2 separate regions of the Homo sapiens genome follow, and region 1 is linked to region 2. Evidence: fine-mapped expression QTL. Tissue or cell type: naive CD4 T cells. Region 2 holds a variant in brackets; the other region holds the start of a gene. All regions are shown on one strand. Distances are between the middles of the regions.

Region 1 (2,529 bases), 70 kb after region 2:
GTAAAACACCATCTTTTTTTTTTTTTTTTGAGACAGGGTCTTGCTGTGTTGCCCAGGCTGGAGTGCAGTGGCGTGATCTGGGCCCACTGCAACCTGCACCTCTCAGGTTCAAGAGAGTCTTGTCTCAGCCTCTGGAGTTGCTGGGACTACAGGCAGGCACCACCGCGCCCAGCAAATTTTTTGTATTTTTAGTACAGACGGGGTTTCACCATGTTGACCACGCTGGTCTCAAACTCCTGACCTCAAGTGATCTGCCCGACTCGGCCTCCCAAATTGCTGGAATTTATTCCAACACCTCATTCATTCATTCATTCATTCGAGACAGAGTCTAGCTATGTTACCCGGGCTGGTCTCAAACTCCTGGGCTCAAGGGATCTTTCTACCTCAGCCTCCCAACGTGCTGAGATTACAGGGACACGCCACCGCGCCAGCCCGAACATCTTTATCTTAAACCCAGAAAAGTGACAGGAGTGTCTCCCCTACAAGATGATGACCAGCCCTCCAGACCTGAGCCCAGGTGTGATTCCAAGGCCCCTGTACTGGGGCCAGACAGGGAGACTCGCTCTCAGGGACTTCCCAACCAGCACCATCTTCTCCCTGCGGGGATGGCGAGGGAGCGCGGGCCGGCCCCGGCCCTGCCTCCGCGCTCGCGCTCGACGGTGTCCTGAAGCGCGCTCCCGGGGAGGTGTTGCAGCCATGGCTACGGCAGCCGGCGCGACCTACTTTCAGCGAGGCAGTCTGTTCTGGTTCACAGTCATCACCCTCAGCTTTGGCTACTACACAGTAAGGACAGCCGCTGGAGCGCTACGGTCTGACGAACGAGCGAGCGCTCGGTTCACCCCAGGACCTGGGCTCACAGGCCGCGGGCCGGGGGAAGTCGTGCAAGCACAATCCCGACTCCCGCGCGCTAGGAGCGGAGGGGAGGGGACCAGACTCCGCAATGAGAGCAAGCATACTGGTCCGCCAGGGTCTTGGGCGGGCGCCCAGGGCCCTGAGAAACCGGCTAGCCAGGCTTTTCTTATATGGGGGCGGGGACGGCTGGGGAGCTCCCAGCCAACTCTGTGTCTGGGTTTTTCAAGAGGATGGTGAAGTCGGAGGCCAGCAATGCGGCTACCGCCTATTTCCGTCCAGCAAGACCCTTGCCCTCTCTGGTCACAGTCCTGGGGCTGGGCTACTTCGCGGTGAGGCGTGGGGTGGGGCGGGGCGGGCCTCTGTTTTGGCCCGCCGGGCCCTCGTAGGGCGAGGGGAGCTCTGGGAACGGGGCCTGTGCGCACGCGCATCTGACGGTTGTCTCGGTTACTCATGTAAGCGGAAATTCGGTGGGCTCTTAGGATAGTTTCTGCTTTCTAGTGTTCCTGTCTTTGGGTCCTCACCTCTGCATGGTTACTAACGGGTTATCCGAGCCTAAGCCTCTCACGAAGCGGAAAGTCAAGTTAACAGACTGCCATAGGCCTGCCAAGTCAGAATAGGGCTTCCGAAGCAGAATGTTTGAGCCAATAGGAATTGTTTGGAAAACGGGGATAAATCTAAAGGATGGGTAGGATTTAAGTGGTAAGGGAGGATAAAGAGGCTATAACTGTTCTGACATAGGTGTGGAAGCAAGAAGAAAGCTGTACCTAGAAAAAGAGCGACGTTTGTTTGGCTGAGAAATAATCTGTTTAAAGGATAACGAGAAAGATGCGTGGAAAAGTAGGTTGGGGGCTAAGGTGGTAGTTTTGTGTTTTTTTGAGACGGAGTCTCGCTCTGTCACCCAGGCTGGAGTGCAGTGGGGCGATCTCGGCTCACTGCAACCTCTGCTTCCCAGGTTCAAGCGATTCTCATGTCTTTACCTGTAGCTGGGATTACACTATGCCCAGCTATTTTTTTGTGTTTTTAGTAGACATGGGTATTGGTGAGGCTGGCCTCGAACTCCTAACGTCAAGTGATAAGGTGGTAAAATTTTGAAGGAAGGCGAAGCTATTTGGGTATACCAATAGATCCTGGAGATTGGAGATTTGTCTTGTCCACAGTGTTGTTTGTTGGTGTCAAATCTGACAACCTATGTCCTGATTTCCCCATATGTACAATGGAGGTGTTGAACTGAAAATTTTCAAAGGTGCATTTCTGTTCTACGATTTAGTGTCTGTGACTAGTTAGAATATAGTTGGAGGAAAGCTTTGGGGACTTCAAATTGGGATCTTGTGGAGCTGGCAGATGCTCCCCTTTCCCTTTGGTTTGGGAGGATGCAGTGATATTTGTGCATTATTTAACTTTCAGATGTGAAACAACATCGTGAGAGAGGTAGTACTGCTCTTGACAAAGATTTGAATGGGACAATACATTTTGAAACTGTTGAGTTATTCTCAGAAAAGTCTTAGCTGACAGAAGTTACAATACAGAGGCTGAAAGTTAAGATTACGAAAAATTTATGTGATTAAGCAGTTGCTATTAAAATGTCACAACCTTATCTCACTTATTTTCCATCTCTATGCAGTGGATCATTCTCAGTTTTAGCCGTACAAAAAGGGAAAGCCGAGAAAGGAATTCTAA
Region 2 (2,758 bases):
GAGTTTAAGACCAGCCTGGCTAACATGGTGAAACTCCATCTCTACTAAAAATACAAAAATTAGCCAGGCGTGGTGGCGGGCACCTGTAATCCTAGCTACTTGGGAGGCTGAGGCATGAGAATTGCTTGAACCCGGGAGGTGGAGGTTGCAGTGAGCTGAGATGGCACTACTGAACTCCAGCCTGAGCGACAAGAGTGAAACTCCATCTCCAAAAAAAAAAAAAAATGTCTACTACATACCTGTAAGAAGTACAAAACTAGTATGTTTGTAGACATAAGCTATGAACTAGATCTATGTTGTGCACCTAATGTCATTCCAACACCTTCAAGTGCAAATGAAGAAGATGGAAAATTACTGAAAACTTGTATAATGGGGACATAATGCAATTTGATAAAGTAACACAAGGAAAGGATAATAATTTTTTCAAATATATTTTTATTGTACAAAACTAAAGCCACATACACTTTGTTACGTTATGATGTATTTTCACGTTATTACATCAAAAGAAGGTAGAAGACTGAGAAGAGGGATGATTATTGAAGAGATTTTAAGGTTATATATAATTCATTTGTAATAAAATAGGCTATTTTATGGGTATGTATGGAAATAACTACCTCAGCATAAGATTGTATACGAAAAATCCACAGCTAGGCCAGGCGCAGTGGCTCATATCTCTAATCCCGAAACTTCGGGAGACTGAGGTGGGTGGACCATGAGGTCAGGAGTTTGAGACCAGCCTGGCCAACATAGTGAAACCCTGTCTCTACTGAAAATACAAAAAAATTAGACAGGCATGGTGGTGCGTGCCTGTAGTCCCAACTACTAAGGAGGCTGAGGCAGGAGAATCACTTGAACCTGGGAGGCAGAGGTTAGGTGAGCCCAGATCGCACCACTGCACTCCATCCTGGGCAACAGAGCAAGACTCTGTCTCAAAAAAAAAAAAAAAAAAATACACAGCTAACATCATACTCAACAGTGAAAAACTAAAAGCTTTTCCTCTCAGGTAAGGAAAAGCGAGGATGTCCACTCTTGCCACTTCTATTCCAAGATAGACTGGAAGCCCGAGCCAGAGCAATTAGACAAGAAAAAGAAAAAAGGCATCCAAATTGGAAAGGAAGAAGTAAAATTATCTGTTTATGGATGATGTGGTCTCATAAATAGGAAAACCTAAACAAAGCTATTAGAAATAATGAACAAATTCATCAAAGTTACAGGATTTTAAAAAAAATCAGCATACAAAGATCAAATGTGTTTCTATACATTAACAATTAACAATCTGAGTAGCCAGGTGCAGTGGCTCATGTCTGTAATTCCAGCACTTTGGGAGGCTGAGGCGGCGGATCATGAGGTCAGGAGTTTGAGACCAGCCTGACCAACATGGTGAAACCCCGTCTCTACTAAAAATACAAAAATTAGCCACGCATGGTGGTGCATACCTGTAATGCCAGCTACTCAGGAGGCTGAGGCAGGAAAATTGCTTAAACCTGGGAGGCAGAGGTTGTGGTGAGCCAAGATGGTGCCATTGTACTCCAGCCTGAGCAAGACAGAGTGAGACTCTGTCA[CAA/C]AAAAAAAAAAAAAAAAAAAAAAGCCAGGCACAGTGGCTCACGCCTGTAATCCCAGCACTTTGGGAGGCTGAGGCAGGTGGATCATGAGGTCAGGAGATCAAGACCATCCTGGCTAACAGGGTGAAACCCTGTCTCTACTAAAAGTACGAAAAATTATCTGGGCGTGGTGGTGTGTGCCTGTAGTCCCAGCTGCTCGGGAGGCTGAGGCAGGAGAATGGCGTGAACCCAAGAGGCAGAGCTTGCAGTGAGCCGAGATCATGCCACTGCACTCCAGCATGGGCGGCAAAGCGAGACTCTGTCTCAAAAAAAAAAAAAAAATCTGAAAAAGAAGAAAACGATCCCATTATGAAAGCATCACACAGCTGGGCTTACCTATATATCGAAAAAAAAAGCACTAAAAGAAATAAAATATTTAAGAATAAACTTAACCAAGGAGGCAAAAGGCTTGTATACTCAAAATTTCATAACGTTGAGCCAAATTTAACAAAACACAAATAAATGAAAGCAATCTTGTGTTCCTGAATTTCAAGATTTAATATTGCTAAGATTCTCATACTATTTAAAACCTATAGATTAAATGCAATCCCTATCAAAATTTCAATAGCATTTTATAGAAATAGGAAAAACTACCTTAAAATTCCTATGGAATCTGGGCCCAGTGCAGTGGCTCACACCTGTAATCCCAGCACTTTGGGAGGCCAAGGCAGGTGGATCTCTTGAGGTCAGGAGTTCGAGACCAGCCTAGCCAACATGGTGAAACCCCACCTCTACTAAAAATACAAAAATTAGCTGGGTGTGGTGGCGCATGCCTGTAATCCCAGCTACTTGGGAGGCTAAGGCAGGGGAATCACTTGAACCTGGGAGGCTGAGGTTGCAGTGAACCAGGATGGTGCCAGTGCACTCCAGCCTGGGCAATTGTGAGTTGAGTGAGACTATCTCAATAAAACAAAAACAAAATTCCTATGGAATCTCAGAGAAAAGCAAAATAGCCAAAACAATCTTGAAACAGAAGAACAAATTTGGAGATCTCACAATTTCTGATTTCAAAACTAATTATAAATTGATAGTAACCAACAGAGTATGGTACTGGCATAAAGGCAAACATATAGACCAATAAAACAAAATAAAGAGATCAGAAATAAACTCAGGAAAATGTAGTCGAATGGTCTTCAACAAGAGGACCAAGATCATAC

The links. PIP is the estimated chance that this variant, and not a neighbour inherited with it, causes the effect.
Region 1: it holds the start of TMEM254-AS1, and the variant in region 2 is fine-mapped to the expression of TMEM254-AS1 in naive CD4 T cells (Schmiedel 2018, PIP 0.95).

The regions. Positions count from the first base shown.
Region 1 is chr10:80,078,004-80,080,532 of GRCh38, forward strand. It overlaps TMEM254-AS1 (TMEM254 antisense RNA 1), which reads right to left and starts at 1,190. Exons shown (of 4, transcript NR_027432.1): 1 at 724-1,190. It overlaps TMEM254 (transmembrane protein 254), which reads left to right and starts at 662. Exons shown (of 4, transcript NM_025125.4): 1 at 662-783. The coding sequence starts at 697.
Region 2 is chr10:80,007,879-80,010,636 of GRCh38, forward strand. No RefSeq gene overlaps it. Among named protein-coding and RNA genes, the nearest start is that of SFTPD, 60 kb to the left of the region's middle. The variant CAA/C (reference allele first, on the strand shown) is at 1,563.